5 separate regions of the Homo sapiens genome follow, and regions 1, 2, 4 and 5 are each reported to be linked to region 3. Evidence: microRNA targets listed by miRTarBase, many of them from high-throughput screens and not tested one by one. Region 3 holds a microRNA gene; each other region holds the end of a gene's coding sequence.

Region 1 (6,442 bases), not on the chromosome of region 3:
TTTTCCTTTCTGATGGTCAATAGCATACTAATCAATACAAATATTAAGTCTGTACTAGTATTAACATTCCCTCCCCACATATAACTCAATATACATATGCACATTTATCTATGACTCAGATGCTGGAAAATCATAACCTATTAAATTACTTTTGGGATTGATTTTGAAAATTTATCTTATATGAAAAATTAAATTTGAGCACTACAATGCTTGTGAAGAGTATTGCTTTTGGAAGATATTATTCTTGAAACTTGAAATTCATTTTACTTTGTTTGTATCTCACTACACATAAATAAATTTGAGATAAAAATACATTAGTCAATCTGGCAGACATATGAGACCGGTTATGGAGTATTCACAATGCCTAAAGCAGTGGTGTATCTGTCAAAGGAGGAAAAAGTGGGAGAAAAGGAGGTATAGGTTTGTTTATCTCAAGTTGCAAAGTAAATGCAAAAGTGACTCATCGACCACTCTGTTTTAGAGGTAGATTAATATTTTGCCTTTATACCTTGAGATACTTTTATTTCCTATTGATCTTCCACTATAAGGGTGACTCTAACAGCACCTTTAAATTCCTTCTACCTATTCTTTATCTAAGGTAGTTTATGGTCAATAATAAAGGAATAATAAATGCCTTAGGGAAACTATTTTAAAGGAACCTATTTGTGAATTATTTTTTAAGCAGTTTTTTGGTATTATTAGTGTTTCCGTATTCTCTAATTTATCTGTTAAAGTGTGTATATTAGATTTTCTTAAGAAGGGGCACACATCTATCAACATTCTAAATCATTTTAGGTCATATAAGTTTAAGAAATAAGTAGTTTATTGTAAAAAAAATTATTTTATCCTTGCTAGATGATAAGCTTCTTGAAGGCAAATATAATAGCTTAAGGATCCTGGCTTTAACCTTCTATAGCCTCTTACACATGAAAGGTATCCCCAGGCTCTGTGGAGAGAGAGAGTGTCCCCGAGAGAAGGCTTCCTGAGGTAGTTTCATTTTCTAGGTTTTCATCATGAGTGATTGTTTCTGTGTTCTGTGCCCAATAATAAACAGGCTTTGTGTTATACCTTAATTTAAATCGTTGCCTAACAGCATTTTAAAGTGTCCAGAAACAAAAAGATGAAAATGTTTACATTTGCAGCTCAAGCTCTTTTAACTTTATAAATAGAAATAACATTTCTAAGAAGTTGCATACAAACGACATTGTACTTACACCAGTCTAAAGGTTAATATTGCATATTGTTTTCAATTAGGAATACAATAGATATGGCTGGTGGGTAGGAGAAATGAAGGGAGCCATTGGCTTGGTGCCTAAAGCCTACATAATGGAGATGTATGATATTTGAGAGTCCTGGGTAAGTACATTTTAATCCAATATTCTGTAATAGCTCATATGTTCTCTTGGTCTCTTCGTTATGAGTCTTTGCCTTTTTAAAAGTCTTTAGAGTTTTCTGATAACACAAAGATTGTGCCCCGAAATCTTTTTTGTTTTGTTTGATCTGGTTTAATTTTTAAAATAAGAATTTTTAAAATAAAAACTTTATGGAATTTACTTTGGAAATGAATAGATTATTTAGAGAAAGTTCTTTTGATAGTAACCAGCTGTTTTCCCAAACTTCCTCCTTTTCAGTAAAATACCACTTTTTATGGCCTTTCTGAAGAGTTGAATTGACAAAATGTTGAGTAAAAATACATTTTTCCTTGGCTAAAAGTGTAATTTTTTTAAGCAGGAAAAATCAAGTTTCAGCTGAATCAAAAATTAAAATGCAGCTTTCCCTTTCTCCTGCAGAAAAGGAAAATTCTTCTGCTTGTCTGCAAATGCTTTGGATTTAGAAGCGTCATGAAAGCACGAGTGACAGCTCCTAACCTCTCCTTGTTTTATTAAACATTACTTATCTTTGACTGTTATTTTATGCAGTCGCTCATTAAAATATTCCTCTGATGTGAAATTAAATGAAGGATATTAATGTAAATTAGATGCAACCAGTTAAGTTATACCTGTTGCTATTTTGCAAAGAAATAATTATAGTTTTTATTTACCCATTTGATTTGTGTGAAGAATTCATCACTATTTTATACGTAACATATAGTCTACTATAGCATAGTATGCTACTATTGCTACTTCTGGTGTGATTTGTAATGTTTCTTAATCATTGGACATCAATTATTTTTAGAGAGTAATGTATAATTTCATAGCATTTTAAATTTAGTGTATCATGCGAGTTTTTTTTGGTAGATGCTGAAGAATGTGGTTGCTAAACAAAGAATGCTAAAGAATGTTCAAACTTTATAGATAACTTTATTGTTATTATTTATTTTCACACATTTAATTCCTATTAAGTACAGCCGCAAGAAAGAAAAAATGATGAAGTTGCAAATGGCAGTGTGCTGTCACCTGCAACAGAAGTGCGTACCAGAAGTATGACTCATGCAAAGCATTTTACCGTACAAATATCCTGGTGCGATGATGGGCCTGGCAACATTTTCTACTGTACTTTTGTTTAAATTTAATGAAACAAAAAATTCCTAAGAAATACCACCCTACCACTAACAAAATGGTATAAAGAATCTCCCAGCCAGGCCAACATGGTGAAACCCTGTCTCTACTAAAAATTAGCCAAGTGTGGTAATGTTCACCTGCAGTCCCAGCTACTTGGGAGGCCAAGGCACGAGAATTGCTTGAACAAGGTAGGCAGAGGTTGCAGTGAGCCAAGATCGCGCCACTGCACTCCAGCCTGGGCGACAGAGTGAGACTCCATCTCAGAAAAAAAAAAAAAAAAAAACAGAATCTCAGTGTATTCTCAAAGTAAAAAGGCATAACCAAGCACTCTCTTATCTTGCCTTATTGCTATACTATTTACATCCCACTGCAGAACAGCAGATTTGAGGCTTTTCTATATACTTCTCAGAGCACTGAAAAGAAAGGAAGGGTTTGCAGAGGAGAGTGTAGAAATCCCAGTGGTAGCATGTACCAACAGGTGAGTAGAAAGGTAGTGTTAGCCTGACATTTGAGTTATACTCTGTGCTGCCTGAGCAAGATTTGTAGAATCATATAATTACCTTTTCATGTATATTTGAAATCAGAGGTGTTTAAAATACCTATGAGATACCAATGTAGCCTTAACATATGTCAAAATGCATTGCTGGTTAGATAATTATTTGGACTACACATAAACTCCTAATATTGAATCATTACCTATCAGGTATTATCTTTATGGAACTTTTCAATATCTTTGCTTTATAAAGATTCTAAACATGTATCTGAGCTGGTAATATTTTAAAATCTCCATTATTTGTGTAAAACTGTTTATAAGCAGTGTTTGAGAGGGTCTGCTTTACCATTACCCCCTCAATATCATGATCATCCAATCTCAAATGTGAAAAAAAAAAAGAAATTTGATTTTAGGGATTGTGAGTAAACAAGTTTATATAGAGAGACATTGTGAAGTTAAAGTTTTCAGAAGTTACATTTGTGCAGTTCTTACCTTTTCCTCATATAGTGCCATTGAAATAGACTGAAATTATCTTGGCAAAAGTTAGACAACCAAAGACGACTTTAGTGGACTGGTTTTCAAAACTTGAGCAGCTGAAAAGCAAAAGCCGTTGTTTCCCATGACAATGTAGCCTTTGTGGATTTGGGTTTGTGCTTTGGGTTGAAAAGAAGTTTTTAGTCCTAGGCCAGTAGATGGCAGCAGCTTTTCATTGCAGACAAAACCTCTTGAAACCCTTCCCCCATGGCACAAACTCGCCCATGATGGAAAGCATCTAGATTTCTGCCTCCTTTTACAGTTAATCCAGGAGAGGGAGTCCTTTGCCAACTGATGACCAACAGTTCCAAGCCAGATAGTCTCGTGAACAGTGACAATACAGAAATAAGGTGTTATTTCTGTTCAGATCTCCACCGGCCTTTGTTCTTTTAAAACTTGAATATAGGTGGGAGACATAAGAAAGGAAAGAAAAGACTTAAAACTGGAGTGACAGGACAAATAATCATTACTTTCAATTCATGACTGCTTTATATTCATTTGATGAAATCATTTGTATACAAACCAGGGAGAGTTTTCTTTACACCCTTGACAATATATCACATACTCTTCAAGATCATAATAATATCATTAATATAAATTTAAACAACATGGCTTGTTAGAAAATATGCTAATTGCTATGGTCTCATTATGTTTGCTTAGCTTTTATTTGTTTTTCTGTGAACAGTTAGAGAGCTAATTTTTTTCAAAGGTGATTGTAAGTCATATTTTATATAGCATTTTGCTTGATTATTTGCTCTGTACTGAATTTGTACTCTATTGCCATTAGATCTTACAATAATGTTCCACTCTGCAAATTTTTAAGGTTCAAATAAAGTTTAATTGTTTGCAAACTGTTATGATGCTAATAATTCAACAGCCTGCTGTGTTACTAATGAAATTACTTTGTTATGATTAATTTGGAAAATAGTGTGTTGATTGTAGTAATTAAGCACAACAAGGTGAAGTAAATGATTCTAATGCCATCTGGCCGCCAAACTGAATGAAGAAATGAAATAGGGCTGTCATCTGAATTTATTCAAAGAAGTAAGGATAATACAAATGACTTTCATTGCTTTAGGATTTACACTTAACACAGCTCACTCCGTTCTATTTTTGCCACTTTGCTGCATATGACACTTTCTTTCATAGAAAAAGAATGTCATTTAGTCCAGCAATTGTTTTGAATACTTTATTTTATTGGAAGCTGATTATTTTTACTGTGTGCTAATTTAATTACAGATAATTACATAAAGTATTATAGGACCATGGGAAAAAGAAATCACTTTTCAACCATGTGTAGGTGAAATCCATATATATGGGGTTTCGTTTTTGTTTCATGTTTTGTTTTGTTTCACTTTTTGCTATCATTACACAACCACTTTGAATATAGCCTTGCACAAAGAGTAGGGCATCCATTCAACTGTTTCTTAAATGTGTACAAAGGCTCACTCTTAGTTCTTATGATTTCTACTTTTTATATAATTTCATGTAATTTCTGCACTCTACTACTTGCTACTTATTCATAGACTGGTACTATCCAGGGTCATAATTTAAAATAGAACTGAGTTAGATATTATGAATTCAGATTTGCAGTTCAGCCATTAGAAGAAAATTAACCCTAATATACATGTTGTTTAAGAGCTTGAACTTCATCAGTGAGACTGAGTGAAGCATTGTGAGAATTTTTAAAGTTCTAAATTTCAGATAAATCAGTCATTTGTATTTCATTTGTTGGAGTTATAGACACACACCATATAGAGATCACTTTTGCTTCTCTTGAGTTCAGTAGGTTCATGACTATTGAAAGCAATCCACATGGTAAAGAAAGAGGTGGTGAAGAGTGGAGATCAAAACATGATCAAGCCATGGAAAACACAGCTTCACTCAAAGGTTGAAAGAATACTTTGTGTGTGTGTGTGTGTGTGTACACTGTATATATATATAAAATAAAAACATTTGATGAATATGATCTTATTTATAGTAATATACTTAGTATTCAAAAATACAGAGAAACAATAAGTACTACATTGTTAAAATATTATTATACAAGTTTAATATATACTCAAATGCACAACAGTTTATACTCTGGATTGGGAACAAGAGATTTCTAGACATCTCAGCTTTAGCCAGTTTATTATACGCCTACTGCTTTATAGTTGAGTTCTTCCAGAATATCTGTTAGAACCTCTGATAGCATACTATTTTATGATGAGATAAATACTTTAAAAATCATATGATCACAGTAGCATGGAATGACATTTCATTAATGCTATGTTTGAGGGGCTTTTTCTTGTTTCTGCTAGTAGAATCTGTTCTACCATTACTTATACACAAACATATTATTTATTGCCAGCATGGTACACATTATATGGTGTGGATCCAGTAAATATTTGTTAATTAACTGATTTGGCACCCCACAATATCTCAAGACATGAGATTTAAGAAGAAAAGAGCTTGACTAGTAAACCTGGTAGAGAAAATGCCTTTATACAGTTAGTATATCCCATAATACTATCAACAAGTAGATTGGATTTTATTGTTATAACAGAATTGAGTGAGATTGTGAATAATAAGAAAGTTGAGTTGTGGTACATTGTCCTTAGATGTTTCCTTCCTTTCTTCCCTTGTGTTCAGTGTTGTGACCTCAAATAAGAGGCACAGGTGCCTCCTCGGGCAGCTTGGGGCAAGTGATCTACTTTCACTTTCCAGTGAAACATCTCAAATCACTGCTGCCCTGCATTCCACTTGCGTAATATCAGAGAAGCCTTTCCTGCATCTGATCTTGAAAGCATTCTAGCTGTCGCCTTGGGCAGATCAAAAATTTGTGCAAGTAAGTGGGAAGTTTCACAGTTGCTGCCAAATCTAATCATAATTTAGCTTTTGTCCTTTTTGTTAACTTTTACTCCCTGTTTAT
Region 2 (6,442 bases), not on the chromosome of region 3:
AAACACAGGAGGTTGGTGCAAGAATCTAGGTTGGAAATTATCATGGTCTGTACTAGAATGGTGGCAGTGGGCAAGGTGAGAAGTGGCTGCATTTGAGATACAGTTGGTAAAACCAAAAGAACTTTGTGATTTCTGGATGCAGAGCATGAGGGAGTTGGAAGATTCAGAATGACATCTAGGTTTCTGGCTTGCACAATTGAGTAGCGTGATTTGCTGACATGAGGCATACAAGACAAATTCTGGGGAAAGCAGATGCATGCAGATCTGGACACGCTAGCTTGAGATGCTATTTTGAACACTCAAGAGATGTCAGCTAGATGTGTATCTGGAACTTGGAAGAGAGATCTAGGCTGAAACTACAAGAAAAGGAATTACCAAAATACAGATGGTCATTTGAAGCCATGAGAGTACATGAAATCACCTGGTGCAGGCTCAGGAGAGAAAAGAGCCTGGAGACAGTCAGAGGAAGAAAACAAAATGAGACCAAGGAGTGGCCGGAGAAATAGAAATAGTGTGATGTCAGAGAAGTTTAAGAGAAGATTCCTTTTTAAGGAGAGCAAAGTGGTCAATTTTAAATGTTAGTTAAAAGGAATGCACATCTAACCTACAGGATTGACAGCAAAGTCTTTGTTGACCCAGGAAATTTTATTTTGAGCCAGGAAGTTAGATTTTTTTTTAACCTTTGCCAGTCCTAGTTCTTATAAAATTACCAGCCATTACAAAAGTATTCTAGTTTATTTTTAAGAGACAAGGTCTTACTCTGTTGCCCATGCTGGAGTATAGCGGGCACAATCATAGCTCACTGCAGCCTTGAACTCTTGGCTCAAGCAGTCCTCCGCCTCAGCCTACTGAATAGCTAGGACTACACCCAGCTAATTTTTATTATTTTTATATTTATGTATTTACTTTTTTGAGATGGAGTCTCACTCTGTCGCCCAAGCTGGAGTGCAGTGGCGTGACCTTGGCTCACTGCAAACTCTGCCTCTCGGGTTCAACAGATTCTCCTGCCTCAGCCTCCCGAGTAGCTGGGACGACAGGCACGTGCCACCATGCCCGGCTAATTTTTGTATTTTTAGTAGAGACAGGGTTTCACCATGTTGGCCAGGCTGGTCTCAAACTCCTGACCTCAGGTGATCCACCCTCCTTAGCCTCCCAAAGTGTTGGGGTTACAGGCGTGAGCCACTGCGTCAGGCTTCAGCTATTTTTTTAAAAAATATTTTTTGTAGACATGGGGTCTTGCTATGCTGCCCAACCTGGTCTCAGAACTCCTGGCCTGAAGAGATCCTCCTGCCTTGGCCCCCCAAAGTGCTGAGATTACAGGCATGAGCCACCATGCCCAGCTTTTTATACTTTACAAATGAATGCACGCTGTTGAATAATTCTGCTCCATAATTAGATACAGTCTGACCACTAGTAAATAATGATTGATGCCCTTTGAGGATTTTTGCTCTTTGTACCCGTGTACCTTAGACCTTGGGAAGAATTAAAACTCTCTGGTTGAGGAGAGTTTGTATCATGCCCTTTTTAAAAAATTATTTTAATCCAATAACATGATTGGGTCCATATTGGTTGAACATATTTCAGGAGATTGACAAGTCATCTATGCTTATCATTTGTACCCCTGGCTCTATTATTTTCTATTCTTTACACAGGTTCATCTTAAACAGTATAACCATTACCAGTCCAATATTCTACATCAGCTATCAGAACTTTCTGAAATAGAAATATTCTATAGCTGTACTGTCCAATATGGTAGCCACCAGGTACATGAGTTACTGAGCACTTACAGTGTGGCTAGTGTGACTGAGGGAGTACATTTTAAATTTCTTTAAATTTTAATTAACTTACACTTAAGTGGCCACAATGATCTTCAGTAACCCTATTTTTTTAATGTATTTTTTGAGATGGAGTCTTACTCTGTCACCCAGGCTGGAGTGCAATGGTGCGATCTCGGCTCACTGCAACCTCTGCCTCCCAGATTCAAGCGATTCTCCTGCTTCAGCCTCCCGAGTAGCTGGGATTACAGGTGCCCGCCACTACGCCCAGCTAATTTTTGTATTTTTAGTAGAGACGGGGTTTCACCATGTTAGTAAGGCTGGTCTCGAACTCCTGACCGCAGGTGATCTGCCCATCTCGGCCTCCCAAAGTGCTGGGATTACAGGTGTGAGCCACTGTGCCCAGCCTCCAGTAACCCTATTTTTGCATTTGATGTTGAAAATTGCTCACATATGATGGTAATCCTATTGAAAGACTTGAAATTAGATAAAATGTTAGCTGTGAAACACTTCATAAAAAAAACAAAACAAAACAAAACAGGCCGGGCAGTGGCTCATGCCTGTGATCCCAGTACTTTGGGAGGCCAAGGCGGGCGGATCACGAGGTCAAGAGATGGAGACCTTCCTGGCCAACATGGTGGTCAAGAGATCGAGACCTTCCTGGCCAATATGGTGAAACCCCGTCTCTACTAAAAATACAAAAATAAGCTGGGCGTGGTGGTGTGCACCTGTGGTCCCAGCTACTCAGGAGGCTGAGGCAGGAGAATTGCTTGAACCCAGGAGGCAGAGGTTGCAGTGAGCTGAGATCGCGCCACTGCACTCCAGCCTGGCGACACAGCGAGACTCCGCCTTAAAAACAAAACATAACAAAACAAAACAGTGACTACCACTGTTCTCCACATGGTTTTGCCTATCTTGCTAAGTTTCCATGCCAAACCATTTTTTTTTAAAGGAAAGGTATTTATATCCCTTCTTAATAACTTAGTGTGAAACTCTAGGACATATTCTCTTAAAGACCTCTTCCTTACTAATAGACAAACACAAATCATTCTTAAAATTAAATATTGTTTTCTAGCTCTAGCATAAAAAAATAGTAGAGGCTGTAAGACAAAAGCTGACAAAACACAAAGCTTTCACAAACCATGGTTTATACAATACTTTATCTTACACTATTAACACTTTATTGAAAATATTTCTATTGAAAAGAACTCTGGAAACACATAAAAATATTTGGTAAGAAAACAAAAGCACATCTTTACTACCAGTGTGAATTACTACCTGACAATTATCAACTTCTCAAATAAGAACATTAACCTACTTGTGATTGAAGAAAGAATTATCCTGTCTATGGATGACATAAGCAACTTGGCCAGGACAGAACCAATGGATGAAACCACATATAAATCCAATTTGGCCAGTTAACTTATGTAAGTGAAATGAAACAGTTAACTTTATTCATTAATATGATCAAAACATTATCTTTACTTCCAAGATCTGCAAAAACTTAATTATCCAAATAATTTAAGTTTGGAATTTATATATTTTTCAATACATAAAGGGTAAGGAAACTCTTATACAGTAATGAGACGGAAAGAAAACAACAGCTTCCCGTGAAAAAGACCTAATGTAGTCAAATATAAAAATAAGTACAGTAGCCTCTTTTTTTTTTTTTTTTTTTTTGAGACGGAGTCTCACTCTGTCGCCTAGGTTGGAGTGCAATGGCGCAATCTCCACTCACTGCAACCTCTGCCTCCTGGGTTCAAGTGATTCTCCTGCCTCAGCCTCCTGAGTAGCTGAGATGACAGGCGTGTGCCACCATGCCTGGCTAATTTTTATTTTGTGTATTTAATAGAGATGGGGTTTCACCATGTTGGTCATGGCTGATCTTAAACTCCTGACCTCAGATGATCTGCCTGCCTCGGCCTCCCAAAGTGCTGGGCTTACAAGTGTGAGCCACCACACCTGGCTGACACCCAGCTGAAATGTAACCTCTTGATAACAGCCAAATCACTGTATTAGAAACATTTAAATTCCAGCTCTGAGGGTCAAGGGTGAGGCATTTAAAAGGTTCCTTTAAGTTAAACCAAATGGATGAATTTTAAAAGAACAAAAGCAATTTATGAACCTATGGGCATATCATTAAAAAAGAAAAAAATTATTAATAAATTCCAAAAGTTAAAAGGAGTTGGGAAAAAAACCTAACTAGAAAGAAAAAATTTTGGTTTCAATTAAGGGGGATTTTTTGGTCCATTTTATGTAAGAGCTTACTCTTTTTCCAAATGGGCATTTATTATTTGCACAGATACATAAAAATGATTCCCATTTTAAAAACCATAATAAAAATATACATTAACCACAGAAGTACTTACTCTAACTGGAAAGAAAATGAACATGGCTATTTTCAAAACAGTAATAAACACAAAAGGTCAACATACATAAATCATGACAAGTGTACATCTCATTTTTGACAAAAATAAGTTCCATTTTTACATTAATGCTTCATCATCAGGCTCCATATTACATCCTCTGACCTTATTTACATTTACTATGAAATTTCTATTAGCATGTGTCACTCAAAGGCACTCAATTCAGAGGGTAAAAAGTCCTGAGCTTAAGTAGGAAACAAAGTTCCCAACTAAAATTTGAACATAAATAATTCTAAAGATCAGAGAATATTAAAATGTTTAAAACTATAATATCTGGTACATAAATAATTCAAAACCTAATAATAAAGGTGTACAGACTGTCAAAGAAAAGACCATGTAAGGCAAGAAATATCCTTGGAATCAAACTGATTTTTCCCTCATTCAAGATCATTTGAAGGTGCAAAGCTAACTTTCACTGTTCTTAAACTCCTAGGAAAGTCAAATTAAAAAAAATAGCAATGACAATGCTTAAGTTTTAAAAAAAGTTTATCAGCTTAGTCTCCAAAACCAGGAAGAAAATATTTAATGATTAAAAACAAGTATGACCTGGAAAGATATTAGACTAAAAGGAGGAATCACAATGAGCAGGTGAAAATGTTAAAGGAAAGCTTTCAATACACCAACTGAAAAAGGCATTTCTAATTGGCCAACCAAATTATTCTTTTAGATTATTTTAGCCAAATAAAAAGAAATTTACAGATGGATAACTGAGGTCCACTAACATAAGGTAGAAACAAAGTTTAAGCTAAAAATTAAATCTATATTTTGTTGCAGATAAATGTGAGATTTACCTACAGCAATTTTCTATTGATGCTAAATTAAAAGCATGAATTGACATCGTTCTAACAGAAATGGTTTGACAGATATTTTCTTGGCTTTAAAATGTTCTTACGCATATGCATAGAAATGCAATGAGGATAAGAATAATCTTCTGTATTGTCTGTACAGTTCATAAGGCCTTTGTCATTGTTAGTCACCTTCGATGTGAATATCAGTAGGGCCATTAAATTAAAGCTGGCCTAAAAAGTTTTCAAAGTGCTACTGTTTCCAACTGATGAAATCTTCAGTTTTCTGGATTTTCTGGGTGACGATTATTTTCAATTCTTTTTTTCTGGTGATATATACAAGAAGTTACAGCAGATATATAAAGGGAAGATCAGAAGCCTGCTGTCCAAGTTCATCACCACTTGTTCCTATAAGACAGATTTGTAGATTCAATGACAATTAGATAAAATAAAAACAAAAAACCAAACTGTTGAACTGAGTGAACCAAAGGAGATAGTGTCCTGAGTCTGAGATCCACAACTCCACTCTCCAAACTCCCACCCATTAGCTGTGTGACCTTGTCAAATGCAGCTTCCTCACTGTAAGATGGGGACAGTAAGAGTACCTGACTTAAAGGAGGATTACAAGAGATAATACACAGGGGGTTTTGCAAAGCCAGCTATCTATTAAGTACTCAATAATGGTAGTTATTTTCATTATTGCAAAAATTTCTATCAAATACTTACATATTTTGTCAACAGATACAATGTCTAGAAATACATAAACTTCTCACTGGGCTTCAATTTTTAAAAAAATTTATTTCCTTTTACAAAATTAATTAATTATTTTTAAAAATGAGATAGGGTCTTTCTATATTGCCCAAGCTGGCCTTGAACTCCTGGGCTCAAGAGATCTTCCTGCCTCATCCTCCCGCCTCAGCCTCCTGAGTAGCTGGGACTACAGGCAGGTGCCACTGTGCCTGGCTACTTGGCTTCAATTACTGATGGCCGTTGGGTACAGCAAATCACCCAGATGAAGGTCGGGAGTCATTATCATCATCAAAAAGCAGGGTTCCTACTATTGACATTTCCCACTGTCCCTATGACAAACATGTAATTTGTCTCCTGAAACATAAAATACATTATCATGGAAAAGCAATTTCAGGTTCAGTTACATCAACACACACAAGAATGCTCAGAACTCCCAGAGACAGGAGCTGACACTACACAAATATAACATCCCTGATGCTACAGATCTCTGTTTGGAACCTCATATATCCTTTACTAGAAGCATTTGGTAAATAGAATCAATCCTCAGAGTAAAAGAAGAAACACTAAAATGAGAATTCCTACGTTTTAAATGCCTGGGATATGCTCTCTGCAATAGTATGCATTAGTTACACTTTATTTATTTTGGATAAGATACTATTAAACACTGTTTAAATCCAAAGTTTTAATTTTTTACTGAGACATGTAT
Region 3 (6,442 bases):
GTCCAAATACGTGAGTCCAATCACAACTTGGCTTTAAAGTACCCTCTGAAATGAGGGAATCAATATTGCTATTAAAAAATCCTTCCATACACAGTGACGACTCAGGATAGCAGCTCTGCCAGAAAGAAAAGATGATCTGTGCTATCCTTCTCCTGAGCAGTGGAGCAGGCCCAGTCCCTCAGGGTTACCTTTAGGGTAATCAAACTTGGCTTTGAAGCTGAGTCCTAGACTAAGTAAATAATTATCCTCCCAGTTCCCTCATCTTTAACATTAGGGTAATAATAACCCCTTAGGGTTGTTGTATTGATTAAATAGGCATAGAAATCTCCTAACACACTTTGTGTCTAGATTAATGGCATAAGAGAATACGGTAGGAGGTAAGCAGAGAATGTGTTTGTGCAGCTCACACACATGCACCTTCTGTGGGTAAAACAAGACTACATTAATAAGGACTCCACTGCTACTACGGAAACAAAATGTTCAGAATTTCTTAAATTCTGTACTAGACTCATTGACACAACAATCCAAGGAACCGTAGAAACCTGGTTGTCACCTAAAAACCTGAGAGCTGTGGTGCTGAGGTGACCAAGCACACGAGATACGTGCCTGTAGAATGCGTGCGTCTCTGTTATCGCTCGGTAGAGCCCGCTGGCCGCCCTGGTGCTGATCATTTTAAACAAGAGCACGATGCTGTTCCCAGATTCCTTGGTGACCGTCAAATATACATTCTTTCCTGACTGGGTGGCCATCTGCACCACAGGATAAGCTATCCTAAGAGACAGGAAGAGAAAAGAAAGCAGATCTAGAAGGAGTGATTCTTCACCATGTGTGTGCCTTTGTGGGATCCCCATTTGCTCATGACCTAGCAGAAAAATCAGACGCTTCCTCTGGGGTTATCACATCACCATAATGCTGCCTTATTGTAAAGATACAGTGAAAAGCAGTTGGGCATATGTGGAGGGAAGTATGGGAGCAAGTGCTGGGTGTGCGCACATGCATGTCTAGAGCTGAAAACAAGTTTTTTATGGCAGTGAATGGGTTATTTGGAAAACGTTAACTCTGCCACATTGTATACCTTGAATAACATTTAAAATGGTTATTTAGGCCTGAATAAAATTAATGTACATACCAAAATGAAATCTTTCATTCCTAAGAGCTGACTGTCGAGTAAATCCCTTCCTATTTTCTATTACATTGACAGCTACAGATGTATACACATGCTTAGGTCAAAAAAAGTTAAGTCTTGGCTTACCTATTAATTGGGCTAAAGTCATCTTTACAAATTGAGATTCCTTCAGGTCCAACCCCAATGAGCAGTTTCTGCCCTTCGCTATCCCGCACAGAATGCCATTCTATGCCATAGTTTTCCATTGCCGACACAATCTGCAAAACTTGGTATTCAGCTGAAGCCTGGCTGGTCCCCTCCAACTCCTTATGTTTTGCAACAATGCTGGAGGACACCAAGAGGACAGAGAATTAAGTATACAGATATTAGCTTTAGAGATAAACCTATGTAGTCTTCACGAGTGAAATATACTAACACTGATGAATCACAACAACTTAAAACTTATGTATTACTGATGTTTCATGTATTTAGCGAACTTACTATAAAAAACGTCTAAGACACTGGGATCTCAACTATTAAATACTTGGTAAAAACACTTTGGGGATGCTGGATGGGTGATGAATTGGAAGAATTATGGAAAGTCTCTAAAAATATACATAAGTCAAATTTACATATTGGAAAGTCTCATGCATTTGTCCACATATAGTTTATAAGTATAAAGTTGACCCCTGAGGCCCCTGTGGCCAGGGAAGGAGGTAGGCCAACAAACCACAGGAGTCAACCTGGCATGGAGGCCACCCTCAGTCGAGCCTTCAGATGAGACAGAGTTCTACCTGCAGCTTGACTACAGTCTCATGAGCCAGAGGACCCAGCCAAGACATGGCCAGATTCCTGACCTACAGAACTGTGAGACAATTTTTGTTGTTTTATGTCACTAAGTTTTGGGGTAACTTGTTATGCAGGAATAGATAACTAAAATGCCTATGTTAGATCTCCTGGTTTAATTCTTGCTGGGATGAAGAAAACACCAATATACATAATAGATTTTTTATTTTAGGAGATTTGTACTTAAAGGCACAGATTTAAAAAATTCCCATTTTATATAGCATTTCATATTGTGTTTACATATTTTTCAAATAAAAGGCTAACAAATTTTTTGAAAATATTTGGTTAAATTGGGCAATGGCCCAGTCTTAACTTCACAAATTATGTGTATGTACCACAGATTCATCTTCTTTTGGAAATGCTTATACATTTGATAGCTCTATGAATATATGCAGTAGCCCTGATGCTGCCATGTTCATGCTCTGGTGTCTCTGGTCTTGCTGCTCCCTCTGTCCTGATGGCCATTCTTTCTGTCCCCTTGCTTGGATACCCTTTGGTCTGTATCACATGCAAATCCTCTATTCCTCTGGTACAGTATTTGACATAACATGTATATTATGTATGACTTCTTAAGTGCCTCGAACATCAGAGAGCTCAAAAATGTACATAAAACTGCATATTATGTGTGATTAGTTTACCTTCCAACCTTAGTTTCATCCTGTTTAAGCCTATTCTAGTTGTAAACAATACTATATTCAACAGCCTCACCTGTTCAAGGTGGCAGAGGAGAGCTCCTTGGCACAGAGCTCCTCATAGTTATACTTGGCAGTGTTCTGGTTGTAGTCTCCAAACTTGGTCTGGGCCAGGAGGGCACTGAGTTCCACTGCCTGCTCTGGGGAACACAAGAGGTGGCCTGCCAAGAGGGCCTCCTTGATGTGCAAGAAAAAGATATGCCTGCAAAGCAAGGTGAGAGTGAGGTTATGCTTGGGGATAACCTGACATCAATCTCAGCCTACTTAGCAATTTCACAGTCACTTTTAAGGAAAGCAATTTTAAAAGTCACACTGAAAATGCTTAACATTAAAGAACTTCAAAAAAAAATCATCAGTATTAAGGCAAAATCAAAATAAGAACTGCGTTTCTCTGGAATAAAAGTTGTGACCCAAACAAGATAAACTTATTTAACACAAGTTCGGTAACATTAAGGTTACAAAACATAAAATAATTACACATAAGTTTCTGCATTATAGTGTTTTAAAAGAAATTATTTTAATCAGAAAAATTGTATCTTGACATGGATTCTGATAGAATCTTAAGGAACTCTATACATAAAGACAAAATTCTCACCTTTATTCAAATGATACCCCAATCTCTAGTCTCAGTGCCAGCTTCTGTCCTAAGAATCACATGAAAAATGTCCAATCTCCTATAGGCTTCACCACCTGGATGTTCTTCGGTACCTCAATTTTGGCTCATTCAAAACCAAACTCCATATATTCTTTCCCAAGCCCTTTTTCTCCGAATGGAGACCACGGACTGACTTTGGACTCTTTGTCCTATTTCACTTGACTTTCTTCTCTCTGAAAACTATTTAAATCCAGTTCTATCCTCCCATTTGTACCTCCTCAATACTACTTGCAGGAAGAATTTACACTATTCTCTGCGCTGCTCTCCTCCTCCAGACTCCATGCAGGCAGCCTACCTTCCATGCTGCTTGTTTCTAGTATAAACTTGTCATTTCTCTGCTCAAAATCCTTCAAAGGATCTGTACGGCTTGCCAAGGGAGCACGTTGTTAACGTGGAGCTGAGGAGTCTCCGCCATCTGGCCCCAGCTTTCCAGCCACGTCTCCTGTCATTCCCTGCAGCTGCTATGCCCCAGGATAGGGAACGATTCCTCTCCCTGGGAAATCTAGGAAGCATGTTCATGCTCTGGTGTCTCTGGTCTTGCTGCTCCCTCTGTCCTGAGGGCCATTCTTTCTGTCGCCTTGCTTGGATACCCTTTGGTCTGTATCACATGCAAATCCTCTATTCCTCTGGTACAGTATTTGACATAACATGTATATTATGTATGACTTCTTAAGTGCCTCGAACATCAGAGAGCTCCAAAAATGTACATAAAACTGCATATTATGTGTGATTAGTTTACCTTCCAACCTTAGTTTCATCCTGTTTAAGCCCATCCTAGTTGTATACAATACTATATTCTACATTTACTAAAAGGTTATGTCACACTTAAAAACTCCTGTAAAATTCAGATACTGGTCACACTGCCCAAAACTCTGAAGAGCACCTAAACTGCTGTAGACAGATTGGCCTCAGTTATAACAAGTGTCCCTGGCAAATGTGAAGTTTTAACCTTCCTTCGATGACTTGTCATAACCTCTCAAACAAGGCTAATTGCCACATTATTCGTCCCATTAACAAATGAATTGTAACTTTGGCCAGGTGCGATGTCCTCAGCACTGTTTCTGTTTAATAATATATCTGTGTCTGACATTCCAGGTAGAGGAACATGAGCAAGGTAAGAATCGACTAAGGAGGAGGCAGTGAGGCTACAAATCTAAGGAGGTGCTATACTGAGAGTCTACAATGTCTGGCTGACAAGAGCCATTAATCTTATTTTCACTAAGAAGTATTTAAATTCAATGTTTTGTGCATTCTATAATGATAAAGAAATATTTAAAATGATGAAACTCTGCCAAATACTGCAGTTTTTTCTTTTTTTCAAAGCCCGTGTAAAGAAATCATAGTAAGAATGTGTAATAGCCTCAAAGAAGATAAAGATGGTTTTTATTAACCCAAACATCTGCTAATCTTTAAAGTATTTCTGACATACTGCTAAACTGAGAAAGGAGCCCCCACTGGGGCAAAGGAATCACCATGAAAATAATTTGCTGTAAAATAGCTATCTGAGGACTGAGATCCAGCATTCTCAGCAAGCCGTGGTTTACTACACTGTTGCAGGCCTCAAAAGGCTTCTTAGATGACCATTTGATAAACTTCATCTTGGTGAATGTACCCATCTCTGTATTCGACTGGGGTGGAGGTGTGCTGTTAGGAAACTAAAATCTGCATCTATGCTTTCGTTAAAGAAGAAATTACGCTCTGAAAGACTTGAAGAATATTGCCACAAACGAAGTCTTCTTAGTTTAATTACTGCTTATGTAAAAGTGGCCTTTTTTTTTTTTTTTGAGATGGAGTCTTGCTCTGTCGCCCAGGCTGGAGTGCTATGGCACGATCTGGGCTCACTGCAAGCTCCGCCTCCTGGGTTCAAGCGATTCTCCTGCCTCGGCCTCCCGATAGCTACATTAGACCATGCCTGTCTAATTTTTGTATTTTTATTAGAGACGGGGTTTCACCGTGTTAGCCAGGATGGTCTCAATCTCCTGACCTCATGATCTGCCTGCCTCGGCCTCCCAAAGTGCTGGGATTACAGGCAAAAGTGGCTTTTAACTTATTTTTCAGGTGTAAAGTTAGAGACTAGTTCCTGCTTTATTAGATAGTAAGAAGAGTTTTGAATCAATTCCGTGTCTTTTTGCAACCTATCCATGCCTACACTTCCGGAGAGACAGTGGCCAAAATCAAAGGCAAAGAAGCAGTAACAGAATGTAAACAGGTGGCAGGCAGCCTGAGAGCACCACTGATCCTTCTCAGCATATGGGCCAGAATTTAAGAAAAGATCTAGCAAGGGCGATGATTGACCTTTTCGACATACTCCACATTCTAGCCTGGAGTGCAGAGGATGCCTGGTAAGCATGAAAAATCCTTCTCCTTACTGTCAACATCAGCTTTCTGATAGTCCCTTCCTGCATTTTGCAGTTTCATGGCTATAAAGCAACCTTTTCATTTCAAGCCAATAAATATTTGTCTTGCACCGCCTCTGTGCCCAGCCCTAAGCTGGGGTTTTAGGGTAAACATGTCTGAGAGTTCCTTTTTAGATGGACTTACAGCCTTTTACAATAAAGGGACATATCCCATCAAAATAACTCCAGCCACAATCTAGCTTTTGGGTGACAAGTTTATGCTCTCCAGGAGAACAGTACAACAGAGTACTAGTAGCAAAGATCAGCACTCTAATAGGCTCTTTCCAAGACAGAGGATAGCAGAGCTCAGAGACATGTTTCCAACAAGAACTTCAGTGATGGCTCAATATTTATGGGTGGTTTTGAATCAAGTATTTTCTCTTAGTATTTTCCCCTCAAACCATCTGGATTGTAACTATCTGGCTCCTGGGTTTTGCCCCCTCCTTTTTTTTTTTGTAAAGTAGGCAAAATGTTACCAATAATATCAAAACAAGCAGATGTGGTCAAATAAGTTATGCCTGCAGTGAATGCTTTTGCACTAAAGATCAAAAGTAGATGACATATTCAATTCAATAGAGGCTACATCCTAGAATCACAAACAGAAAGAAAGCCTTTGGAAAAAAACTGTTTTCTCTGTCTTAAGGAAATGTCCATGAATACATCCTATGAGCATAAATAAGCTCAAACTGCACCTTTTAAACATTCTTCGGGTTATACCTTCTAATTCATGACTCTTCTTTAAGTTTTA
Region 4 (6,442 bases), not on the chromosome of region 3:
GGAAGGAAGCCGGCCCCCCAACACCCAGGAAGTCAGAAAAGGAAGGGCCTCCCGGGCGCTCAAGGCTGGGGTTGTATGTCAGAGCTTTGCCACTGACTGGTTTATGATCTTGGCGTAGCCCCATCCCACTCTGGCTTCCTTTTTCCTGCATAGGCAACCTCAGGTCCTCAAATCATTCCGGCTGTGTCTCAGCTGGGGTTTTCCCTCCCTCCTCTCAAAGGCTCTGTTTAGTGCGGTGTAAGGACATGGGATGGCCAACAGGGAGGGCTTGCCTTCTTTTCCTTTTCTTTTTTTTTTTTTTTTTTTTCGAGATGGAGTCTGGCTCTGTCACCCAGGCTGGATTGCAGTGGCGCTCCATCCCAGCTTACTGCAACCTCCGCCTCCCGGGGTCAAGCGATTCTCCTGCCTCAGCCTCCCGAGTAGCTGGGACTACAGGCGCCTACCACACCTGGCTAATTTTTGTATTTTTAGTAGAGATGGGGTTTCACCATCTTGGCCAGGCCAGCCTCCAACTCCTGACCTCAGTTGATCCACCTGCCTTGGCCTCCCAAAGTGTAGGGATTACAGGCATGAGCCACCACACCTGGCCTCTTCATTTGTTTCTTAACACATGTAGATATGGGGTCTCTCTATTTTGTCCAGTCTGGTCTCCAACTCCTAGCCTCAAGTGATCCTCCCGCCTAGGCCTCCCAAAGCACTTGAACTACAGGCATAAGCCACTGCGCCTGGCCAAGGACTTGTCTTCTGAGTCTGTCCATGCACTGTGGTCTGGTCCATTCAAGTCTGCTTTCCTTGCTCAAGCCCTATGACTTATGCCGGCCCCGGAGGTTAACTGACTTTTTTTTTTTTTTTTTTTTTTTCTGAGACAGCGTCTTGCTCTGTCTCCCAGGCTGGAGTGCAGTGGTATGGTCCCAGCTCACTGCAACCTCCGCCTCCTGGGTTCAAGTGATTCTTGTGCCTCAGAACGCCTGAGTAGCTGGAACTACAGCATGCGCCACCACACCCGGTTAATTTTTTGTATTTTTAGTAGAGACGGGGTTTTGCCATGTTGCCCAGGCTGGTCTCAAACTCCTGAGCTCAGGTGATCCTCCCGCCTCGACCTCCCAAAGTGCTGGGATTACAGGTGTGAGCCACCGCAGCCAGCCAGTTGATTGACTTTGAATTACGAGCTCTTATGCCCCGGGCATGTCCTGTCTCATTGCTCTCTTTCTGGCACAGACCAAGTACGATGCAAACCAGCAAGCCAGGAAGCACCTCCTCCCCGTCACCACAGCAGACCTGAGCAGCAAGGAGCGTCACCGGAGCCCACTGGAGAAGCCCCACAACGGCCTCCTCTTCCCCCAGCACGGGGACTATCAGTACGGCCGCAACAACATCTTAACAGACCACTTCCAATACAGCCGGCAGAGCTACCCAAACTCGTACAGTTTGAACCGCTATGATGTGTAGAGTCCAAAGGACAGGACCAGACTGTTGGTGACTCCTTCCCCGGCCCCCACAGCAGTATCAGAAACTTCTGACAATCAGTGAATGTACAACCCAGCCGAGGGGACGGTGCATAACTCTCCATCAGAAGCCCTGGGGTTCCTGGCCCCCCGTGAGCCGCAGGAGGATGCGTTGCCTGCAGTGCAGACGGCCGTGAGCTCTGGGCAAACCTAAACAGAGACCAGTGTCTCATGCTCTTTCTTCCTGGAGTCTGTCATCTGAGGGCCGTGTCCCTGCGGAGATCTTGGCCACGTTGTACCTTTCCATGTGGAATTATTCCCCAAGCAGTGTAGCTCAGAGCACTTGTGTCTGCATTCCAGATAACATTCAGGACCTGTGTGAAAAGCTGGGGTCACTGTGGCTGTAGACCATGAACTGGCAGTGGGGGTGTCCAGGGCGGTGCTTGAGAACGTCAGACTGGCTAGTTTAATTCCCTGGCGCAGATACGCATAGGACCAACAGGGTCACCAAGCAGACAGGGAGCCCGCGAGAATCATTCAAAACATCCCCAGCCACAGAGATGGATCCAGTTTCCTGGTCATCCCCTTAGCAGTTCACAAGTTCCTGGCAAATGTTCCAAAGCAAAAAGCGATTGCAATTAGCATCCAGTTCCTGCAGCCTGGTGCTCTGCCCTGCACGTCAGGGTTGGCATCCACCCAGATCCAGATGGAAGGGAAACTTCTCTCTTCTCCTTTGCCTCCTCTTCCCTCACCAGAGCAGGGCGCTTCTCTTGGGGTGGTGAGAAGGATCTTCGAGAAATCGTGTTCAGTATTTCAAGCTCTATTTCTGTGGCACATGTCTTTTGAGAGGCATCTTCACCTCTTCTGTGATGACTTGGTATGTTGTTTGGTAGAGAGATCTTGATTTTCGGAGGATCTTGCATTTTTCTAGGGAATATTTTGTAGTTGTGTGTGTGTGTTTTTGCCTTGGTCCCCATTATGGGATGCATTAGGACTGGCCTATGCATCGAAAATCTTTTTGTTTGTAAACGTTTAAAAACAAAGTTCCCCGGCCAGGCACAGTGGCTCACACCTGTAATCCCAGCACTTTGGGAGGCCAAGATGGGCGGATCACGAGGTCAGGAGTTCGAGACCAGCCTGGCCAACATAGTGAAACCCCATCTCTACTAAAAATACAGAAATTAGCCGGGCATGGTGTCGCGTGCCTGTAGTCCCAGCTCCTCAGGCTGCTGAGGCAGGCGAATTGCTTGAACCTGGGAGGCAGAAGTTGTGGTGAGCCGAGATTGTGCACTCCAGCCTGGGTAACAGAGCGAGACTCCATCTCAAAAAAAAAAACAAAACAAAACCAAGTTCCCACTGGTGATGCCTGTCTGACACGTTTTGGTATTTAGTAGGAAATGAAGTGTTTCGAAGCTTCGAGAGAAGCTTCAAAATTGTCACAATTGCTGAAAACAGAATGAATCGTGAACATTATCTCAATATTTTGTATAATAGACAAGACCACAGTGTTTTGGTTCCCTGACCTGTTTTTGTGTTTATGTTAGGATCTGAATCATGTTCTGGGTAAGGGGACGAGGAGCGAACACTGCACTAAGATTTGGTTTGCCAAATCAGATTCTTTGGTCAAGAGTCAGTTTGGGGCCAGGCGTGGTGGCTCATGCCTGTAATCTCAGCACTTTGGGAGGCTGAGGTGGGTGGATCACTGGAGTTTGAGACCACCCTGGCCAACATGGTGAAACCCCATCTCTACTAAAACAAAAATTAGCCAGGCATGGTGGCACCTGCCTGTAATCCCAGCTACTTGGGAGGCTGAGGCAGGAGAATCACTTGAGCCCAGGAGGTGGAGGTTTCAGCGAGCTGAGATCACACCACTGCACTCCAGCCTTGGTGACAGAGTGAGACTCTGTCTCAAAAAAAAAAAAAAAAAAAAGGAATCAGTTTGGGTCTTGGCAGAAATCAACATAAGGAATATGACAAGACCCCAGTAGGTAACCCTGAGTGCTCAGGTCCGAGCTGTGGTCTCTTTTACGGCTTCATGAAAGGACCGTGCCCTCACGGAGGGGACCACGGCTTGGCTTGTGGGGTCTTAGGTGATGGCTGCCTTCTTTCTTCATCACCACACCCAGCTTCTTGCTGGCACTTAGGGGAAGAGAGCAGCAAATGAGAGATTTACCTTTTATCTCCCAGCGAGCGAGATGTTTCCCTGTTCAGAGAGGAAGTAACATCACTTATGCTTGACTGGTGTTTCTTTTGTTGTTGTTTGTTTTTCTTTCAATTGGAATTCTGTATTTAAGATGTTATGTCAGCTGACACATGGGACACTCCTGAAGAGGTGACTGGCCCCCCACCCTGTTTGGCGGTGAGTTTCCGCACCACCGGCCTCAGAAGTGTCCCTCTTGCTTCGTCTCTTGTTCGCTTGCTTTGTAAATACTTTGGTCCCAAGCTGAGACAATTGCTGTGTAAAACGTGAAGAGTCAATCCCAAAGGGTGTTATTTGTCAGAAGAACTTGCCGTGTGCCTTCACCGAAGGCAGTCAAGTCTGCAGTTGGATTTTTCTCACTGGTGAATGACAAGAAACAGGGATAATTTTGCACTGCGGAGATATTACGGGAGTTGTCTATATGATTATATATAGTACCTGATTCTTTGAACATATTATTGAACTCCAAAATGAATTCGACCTCCATTCAGGCTTCCTGAAATCTCTGAAGTTGCTGAAATTTGTATATTATTTTCCTTTTCCAATGCAAGATCTGCTGGTGACGGGAAATGACTGTCTGGTTTTATTATGGTTTATAAATTAATAAATGGGCTATTTAATTCTGTATATAAATTTACAGCAAGTACGTACACTGGAATGAATGAGGCAATCACGTTACACCAAATCAGCAGATCAAAAGACAAACACATATTTCTGAGACTTGAAGGTCCACATCCCCCCGCCCCCTGCCAAGATGGAGTCTTGCTTTGTTGCTCAGGCTGGAGTGCAGTGGCGCAGTCTCAGCTCACTACAACCTCCATCCCCCGGGTTCAGGTGATTCTCGTGCCTCAGCCTCCCGAGTAGCTGGGATTACAGGCATGCACCACCACGGCTGGCTAATTTTTTGTGTTTTTAGTAGAGACAGGGTTTCACCATGTTGGCCAGGCTGGTCTCGAACTCCTGGCCTCAAATGATCCGCCCACCTTGGCCTCCCAAAGTGCTAGGATGACAGGCATGAGCCACCGTGCCCAGCCTGATTGACAATGGCCTCTTGAAGGCTGGGTTTTCCCAGCCGGACAGTGCCCGCCCCACATGCTCCACTCCCACGCTTTCATCTGCAGGCCTGCCTTCCTCTCAGCCACCTCACTGCTGAGCTCTGTGGTAGAGAATTTCCTTTACCCATCAGGGTATGGTCTGGCTGGTAATACTGACTCCAACCCAGCTCCTTCATTTTATAGAAGGAGGCATTTCTGAATCATGTTTGTTCACCATGGCGAGACTCACTGCAGAATTTTTAACCACCTTATTTTAAGTCATTCATTCTAGGAACAGTCAAGCCCCTACCACAAAGGGGCCAGATCCGTTCAAGTGAGGAAGCACTTGCAGTTTCTGAATTTTGCTGTATATTTGTCCTATGTCACCCAACAGGCCCTTTGCTATAGCTGGGACATTACCAGACCCCAATACCTTAGGGTCTCACAGCCTGAAGGACACAGAGCATTGAATTATTAAAAGACCTGAAAATATTATAATGTTTTTCAATTGTCACCTGTTTTCAAGACTTAAATGCTATAGACTTTTCTGCAGGAATGACGTGTATATTCCTCACTGGCATTTACCAAAAATAAATGATGGTTTCCAGGGAATCAAAATTGGTCCCGATTTGTCAGCGAGGGTCTCTTTTTGAGTGGCCCTGTCTTCAGTGTGCCCAGCAACAAAATGTGGAAGGAGGAGAAAGAGCAAGCCAACTTGGCTGTCACGTCTGGATTTACTGCAACCTTTGTTTTTTCTTCTGAGCCAAAAATAAGGACGTGCAATTTGTGAATTGATTAGATGATACAATGAAAATAGGATCACAGCTAAATTAATGACGTGACTTTATTGAACGGAATAACATGGGAAGTCCAGGAACATTGTGGCAGCTGTGCTTATGAAACTTTTTTTTTTTTTTTTGGTATGTTTCATGTTTTTTGAGACAGGATCTCATTCTGTCGCCCAGGCTGGAGTACAGTGGCGCAATCCCGGCTCTCAGCAGCCACAACCTCCCAGACTCAAGGGATCCTTCCGCCTCAGCCTCCCAAGTAGCTGGGATACAGGCATGTGCCACCAAACCTGGCTAATTTTTGTATTTTTTGTAAAGATGGAGTTTCACCTTGTTGCCCAGGCTAGTCTCAAACTCTGGGGCTCAAGCTATCTGGCCTGTTATGTTTTTGGTTTAAGAGACAGGGTCTCACCTTATTACCCAAGCTGGACTGCGGTGGCACGACCACAGCTTCCTGCAGCACCAAACCCTACATTCCAGTCCCCTGCCTCAGCCTCCCAAGTAGCTGGTCCAGGTGTACACTACCACACCCAGCTAATTTTTAAAATATTTTTAGAGATGGGGCTCTGTGTTACCCAGGCTGGTCCGGAACTCCTGGGCTCAAGTGATCCACCTGCCTTGGCTCCCATAGTGTTGGGATTACAGGTGTGAGCCACCGTGCCCAGCCTGAAGCCATTTTTGAGTATTGACAGCCAAGACTGTGTACCTGCTACATGCCCAGCTCAGTGGTGAGCTTTTCACACACGATACCTTTGTGAGTTTTATTAGCCTTGTTTTTCAGGTGAAAATGAGGCCCAACGGGGTCAAGTCACTCATCTGGGATTACATAACTGCTTAAATCTGGCTCCAGAACCCATTTTTCCCCATTACTTAAGCCATCCCCAGCAAAGGATTTCTTTCAGACAGAAAGGGTTTGAGTTTCTGCTGAAACTGTTGCCCATGTCCTTTTCATTCATAATCTTTTTGTTTAGTGAT
Region 5 (6,163 bases), not on the chromosome of region 3:
GAAGAAATAAAGTCTAATATACAGCGTCTCCACGAAGCATCCGAGAACCTGAAGAATGTACCGTTACTTGATTGGCAAGGCATATTTGCAAAAGTGGGAGACTGGTTCAGATCATGGGGCTATGTGCTTTTAATTGTTCTTTTCTGCTTATTCATCTTTGTTTTAATCTATGTTCGTGTCTTTCGCAAATCTCGCAGATCCCTTAACTCCCAACCTCTGAACCTAGCCTTATCTCCACAGCAATCAGCACAGCTCCTTGTCAGTGAAACTTCATGTCAAGTTTCAAATAGGGCAATGAAGGGACTAACAACCCATCAATATGACACAAGTCTACTTTGAGAATATCTGAACAAACAGCAGCTGCAGACAAAAAGCCTTAGCTAAACTTTGATGAGTAAAGCAGGTCTTACCGAGAATTCAGCTGCCAAAACCCTCCTCTGAGTGTTCCTCTTATAAGGGCACTTAGCACTAGGACCTCCCAAGGTATTGTAAATAAGCCTTATCAGAACTTTTTGTAGTTTCATTCTGAAGCCTTAAGACACACACCATAAAGCTGATCTGTAAACCCTTACCCCTTGCTGTTCAGAGAGCTACTCTTTGTAGTGTTCTTGCATGCATATATAATAAATGTTTTTTCTATTGATCTGTTAATTTGCAAGCCCCCAAACACTGGAACTAAGTTGGGGGCAGGATAGTTTCTCCCAACAGCACTTTGTAGGCTTCTGGATAGACCAAAGAGTGTGTTTGAATAGATAAGGGAATTTTGTTCCCTTGATTTTGGTTGAAGGTAGAAGAATCCAATGTACACATACACAAAACTATGTCCTTAAATTTGTCTCAAAGAATAAATATTGGGTAGTCATCAGAATTGACTGAAAACTTACTTTAGGGAGAAAGCCACAAATAATTTAGGCTGGTATGATCTGAGCTTTCCTGATTTCCCATGGGCATTTTAGTGGTCTAATGGAATATTAGTCTGATATGCATTTTAGCCATCTTATGAAATGGGCCGCAGGTGGAAGTAGGATGCAGGGAGTGTTGAGGTGGCATCTATTATATCAAATGCTTCACTCTGCCCAGTCCTCTGGTGAGTTCCTTACATGCATCTTTCTAGTTAATCCTCTCGGTGTTCATATTTTACAGATTAATCAACTCAAAGGGTAGATAGCTTGCTAAAGATTATACTATTACTGAAAAATAGCAAGATGCAGAACAGCATACCTAGTATGTTACTCTTTTTTTTTTTTTTTTGAGGCAGAGTCTGGCCCTTTCACCCAGGCTGGAGTGCAGTGGCTCAATCTCGGCTCACTGCAACCTCTGCCCCCTTGGGTTCATGCCATTCTCCTGCCTCCCTCCTGAGTAGCTGGGACTACAGGCGCCTGCCACCACGCCTGACTAATTTTTTGTGTTTTTAGTAGAGACGGGGTTTCACCGTGTTAGCCAGGATGGTCTCAGTCTCCTGACCTCATGACCCGCCCACCTCAACCTCCCAAAGTCCTAGGATTATAGGTGTGAGCCACTGCACCCAGCCTCGTATGTTACTTTTTATTTTAAAAAAGGGGAAATGATATGTATATGTGTATGTATTTGCAAATAAAACAGGAAAAGCCATTCACAATTGAAAGTGATTCACATGTAAGAGGAATGGACTGTGAGATTCTCACCTCCTTTTTAAGGTTGCACATAAACAAATTTATGAACATAGCAGATTGATAATTTATTAACAGAATAATCATTTCAAGTTACATTAAGAAAACATGGATGGCTGGGCACGGTGGCTCACGCCTGTAATCCCAGCACTTTGGGAGGCCAAGGTGGGCAGATCACGAGGTCAAGAGATCAAGACCATCCTGGCCAACATGGTGAAACCCCATCTCTACCAAAAGTACAAAAATTAGCTGGGCATGGTGGCAGGCACCTGTAGTCCCAGCCACTCAGGAGGCTGAGGCAGGAGGATCGCTTGAACCCAGGAAGCGGAGGTTGCGGTGAGCTGAGATCGCACCACTGTATTCCAGCCTGGCAACAGAGTGAGATTCTGTGGCAAAAAAAAAAAAAAAAAAAAAAAAAAGCACAGACTGGGTGTGGTGGCTCATGCCTGTAATTCCAGCACTTTGCGAGGCTGAGGCAGGTGGATCGCTTGAGCCCAGAAGTTGGAAATCAGCCTGGGCAACCTGGTGAAACCCTGTCTCTACAAAAAATTAGCCAGGTGTGGTGGCATGTGCCTATAGTCCGAGCTACCCAGGAGGCTGAGGTGGGAGCATCACTTGAGGCTGGGAGGTCGAGGCTGCTGTGAGCCAAGATTGTGCCACTGCACTCCAGCCTGGGTGATGGGGTGAGCTTCTGTCTCAAAAAGATAAAGAAAAGAAAACTCATACTCTGGAACAATAGAACCCTTATAGATGGGTTTGTTGTTCATAGTAATGTTGATATCAAAAGAAGGTAGGCTGGGTGCAGTGGCTTATGCCTGTAATCCCAGCACTATGGGAAGCCAAGGCAGGCAGATGACCTGAGGTCAGGAGTTGGAGACCAGCCTGACCAACGAGGAGAAACCCCATCTCTACTAAAAAAAAAAAAAAAAAAAAAATACAAAATTAGCCAGGCCTGGTGGTGCATGTCTGTAATCCCAGCTACTCGGGAGGCTGAGGCAAGAGAATCACTTGAACCCACTAGGCGGAGATTGTGGTGAGCCAAGATCATGCCATTGCACTCCAGCCTAGGCAACAAGAGCGAAACTCTGTTTCAAAAAAAAACCCCAAAAAGCACAAAACACACACACACACACACACAAAAGAAGGTAATAAAAACTTTCAGCAATATAGGACACAAGAGAAAGCCTCCTTGAGCTGAAAGATATAGGACTTCCTGTGTTTGTTATGCAATATGCATTGAAACTAGAGAAGCCATTAAAAGAAATGCAACTTTCAGTATTGGGTATTTGTGGTACTTGGTTTTCTTTCTTTCTTTCTTTCTTTCTTTCTTTCTTTCTTTCTTTCTTTCTTTCTTTCTTTCTTTCCTTTCCTTTCCTTTCTTTCTCTCTCTCTCTCTTTCTTTCTTTCCTTACTTTCTTTCTTTCTCTCTCTCTTTCTCTCTTTCTCTCATTCCTTCTTTCTTTCTTTCCTTTTTTTTTGACGGAGTTTCACTCATGTTGCCCAGGCTGGAGTGCAGTGGCACAATCTCAGCTCATCGCAACCTCTGCCTGCTGGGTTCAAGTGATCCTCCTGCCTCAGCCTCCTGAGTAGCAGGGATTACAGGCACGCACCACCATGCCCACCTAATTTTTTGTATTTTTAGTACAGACAGGGTTTCTCCATGCTGGTCAGGCTGGTCTCGAACTCCCAACCTCAGGTGATCCGCCCGCCTTGGCCTCCCAAAGTGCTGGGATTACAGGTGTGAGCCACCGCACCTGGCCTGGTCCTCATTTCACAATGTCAAGTACGAATACAAAGTGAAGAGGAAATATGAAATAAAGGGGCAGTCATTGGAATGTTAGAAAATGTCTTATTAAAAGGATAAAGTTTCATCAAATAGCATGACTGATTATGAGGTGTGTTAAGCTGCACAATATTTGATTAAAGTAAGGTTTGTAGGGCATGACAAGTTATAGAAAATAGTTTCAACATTACTGGTGATGGACACAAAGGTATTTCTGATTTTCAAAACTCATAGGGGAAAAAAATCCTCTTTCCATTGTTATGCATCAGAAGGAACACAAAATAGGTTGGTTGGCAAAAACATTTATTAGCCAGCTCAAAGGTTCACCAGATGTTTCACCTTCCTATTTCCTGATACATTTATTAATTAGAAGCTTACTTAAGGAAAATTGTTATCCAATATTTTTTATCAGTGTGGACTCATGGATATATACATTGTTCTTTGGGTTGTAATCCAGTACTATCATACTGTTGCTCAAAGTGTTGCAGCTTTGGCCTTTGAGAGCTCTTGGAAAATTTGTTCCTGTTTCCTTTTGACATGCCTCTCCCTATGTGTTTTTTGTTTGTTTGGCCTTATTTTTTTTTTTTCAGCACTTCCTTACTCTCCAGCGCTCCAATATGCTGCAAGCTCATCTTTTATTTTTCCTGCCCAGCCCTAGAATCAGTGATTTTTTTTTCCCAAGAAACCATTGTTCCCTGTACTGAAAAATGGTTTTAGAAACCAAGATCTGGGCACAAGATGTGCTCATTGCTACTGCTACTAGGTTATCACTGTGTAGGCCCCCTCAGTGGACACAGCTAGGAAATGTTTGTATGTATACACAGATACCTATACATATATACCTACAGTTTATTGAAATAAACGAGTTTATACTGATATCTCCAACTCTCAGCACCACAGGATTCATTCTAGCCTCACCTTACCCCTTGCTTATTTGTAACTTTTCTGTTGCTGAGAAACCTGTCTCCTATTAGCTAAGATTTATTTGCTTATTTGTTAAACTCTACTATATGTGTAAACTAGTTACATAACATAGTTACATAATTGCTAACCTGTCCCTTTATGAGAAACAAAGTAACCAATTAGAATACAGCGTTTGCTTTTTTGTCTTTGGCTTTGCAGTATTCAGTCAAGACATCGTTTTCAAAAGTTAAATCGTCTCCTCAATTTATATATAGGTATATACACATATGTGTATATATATTCACTTCTTTAAAAGTTAACCCATCATTATTGGCATCTAGAGAATCTACATACAAAGTACAAGCAACAAGAAAATGCTAAATTCACTTAAATCATGAAAAGTAATTGGGCTAGGCTCCTCATACAATTCTAATGATAGTTACACAGATGGACTACTGAAGAACAAATACTTTTTATTCTTTTGATTGTTATCTATGACTTTATACAAGATATATGTTTTTTAATTTCTCCACAGAAAGCTTCAGAAGATGAGTATTTAAATGTAGCCATCTTAACCAGCAATCAGTACTACCACAAGGAATATTTCAGGGGTGGCAACAACCCTGTGATAATCCTGCAGCATGGGTCGATTTGCTTTCAAAACCTAGAGGTGTACAAAGTCAAAGGTGAAGAAAATGTGCATTTGCTGTTAAGAAAATATTATGATATACAGTAATTACAACTGTGAGGGAATATATGCAATAAAAATAATTGTTTGGGAGGAAATGTGGATGATTTTTTTTTCTGTTTTCCAAACGAAAGCCTTAGGACATAACACTTTTTGAGTGAGATCTTTGTGGTGACATAATAATTCTATATCTGAGTTGTGATGGTTCCATGAATTTACACATGACAAAATGACACAGAATGATGTAATATTGGCACACACAGCTCAATGTCAATTTTCTAGTTTTGTTTTTGTGCTATAGTGACTTCCACTTGGGAGAATTTGGGTGAAGGCTACGTGGAATCTCTCTGCACTGTTTTTTTTTAAATATATAATTCAGAGTAAAAAGCTTTAAAAAGTAATAGTATTTTACATCCTCAAATTAAACAGATGTGTAAATATATACATATATAGTTTATGTATGTTAAACCTAGTTGCCTTTTTTAATGAGTTTTTTTTCTGTATTAAACTATCCTTCAGAAAGGTTGAAGCAAATGTACCATGTATAATAGGATATTTAAAATTTCATTTTCATTGGCAGAGTAATTTCACAGGAAATGTATCTTAAGGAAATACTCTGCCCTTTCATACCTTCTGTCTTCCTAATAATTTCTACAAAGATATTCAAAAAACCCTTTTGCCAAATAAATGGTCTATAAACTTCTTAACACATCGTGCAGTGCCAGTCTTAATGGTTGGCCACTCCCTCTTTCCAAACACCTTCCCTGAATCACAGTGTGATGCTTAATTTTTGTGTCAACTTTACTGGGCTACAGAGCACCTAGATATTTGATTAAACAGTATTCTGAGTGTTTCTGTAGAAGTGTTTTGGGACGAAATTAACACTTAAATGGGAATACCGAGTAAAGCAGATTTATCTGCCTAATGTGAGTGGGCCTTATCCAATCAGCTGAAGGCCTAAAGAGAATAAGAGGGCTGACCCTCCCCTGAGGAAGAGAATTCTTCCTGCTTGACTGCCTGTGAATTTGACCTTTCCCCCTTGCCTTCAGCTCTTTCTGGGTCTCAAGCCTACCAGCCCTTAAACAGGAACTACACAATTGGCTCTCTTGAGTCTCCAGCAATGATTCCCAAATCTGTATC

The links. Region 3 holds the annotated microRNA hsa-miR-4639-3p (UCACUCUCACCUUGCUUUGC, at 2,848-2,867, opposite strand). A microRNA usually pairs through its seed, bases 2 to 8, with sites in the 3' UTR of a target mRNA and lowers its output. Matches are read on the target gene's strand: a 7mer-m8 pairs with bases 2 to 8, a 7mer-A1 pairs with bases 2 to 7 and ends in A, and an 8mer does both.
Region 1: miRTarBase lists SKAP2 as a target of hsa-miR-4639-3p. Seed matches in the 3' UTR shown: 7mer-A1 at 2,746-2,752 and 7mer-m8 at 2,942-2,948.
Region 2: miRTarBase lists GMCL1 as a target of hsa-miR-4639-3p. Seed matches in the 3' UTR shown: 7mer-A1 at 3,467-3,473.
Region 4: the mRNA of SLC35E1 is a reported target of hsa-miR-4639-3p. Seed matches in the 3' UTR shown: 7mer-A1 at 3,338-3,344.
Region 5: the mRNA of ERVMER34-1 is a reported target of hsa-miR-4639-3p. The part of its 3' UTR that is shown has no 7-base or 8-base seed match.

The regions. Positions count from the first base shown.
Region 1 is chr7:26,665,005-26,671,446 of GRCh38, reverse strand. It overlaps SKAP2 (src kinase associated phosphoprotein 2), which reads left to right. Exons shown (of 13, transcript NM_003930.5): 12 at 1,255-1,356; 13 at 1,791-4,379. The coding sequence ends at 1,347. Among named protein-coding and RNA genes, the nearest start is that of LINC02860, 30 kb to the right of the region's middle.
Region 2 is chr2:69,877,861-69,884,302 of GRCh38, reverse strand. It overlaps GMCL1 (germ cell-less 1, spermatogenesis associated), which reads right to left. Exons shown (of 14, transcript NM_178439.5): 14 at 2,919-5,394. The coding sequence ends at 5,299. Among named protein-coding and RNA genes, the nearest start is that of SNRNP27, 13 kb to the left of the region's middle.
Region 3 is chr6:16,138,028-16,144,469 of GRCh38, reverse strand. MIR4639 (microRNA 4639) reads right to left here and starts at 2,914; the gene lies at 2,846-2,914. It overlaps MYLIP (myosin regulatory light chain interacting protein), which reads right to left. Exons shown (of 7, transcript NM_013262.4): 3 at 2,660-2,845; 4 at 1,253-1,450; 5 at 607-771.
Region 4 is chr19:16,548,686-16,555,127 of GRCh38, reverse strand. SLC35E1 (solute carrier family 35 member E1) reads left to right here. Exons shown (of 6, transcript NM_024881.5): 6 at 1,219-5,291. The coding sequence ends at 1,449. Among named protein-coding and RNA genes, the nearest start is that of CHERP, 9.5 kb to the right of the region's middle.
Region 5 is chr4:52,738,005-52,744,167 of GRCh38, reverse strand. ERVMER34-1 (endogenous retrovirus group MER34 member 1, envelope) reads left to right here. Exons shown (of 3, transcript NM_001242690.2): 3 at 1-1,615. The coding sequence ends at 339. Among named protein-coding and RNA genes, the nearest start is that of ERVMER34-1, 10 kb to the left of the region's middle.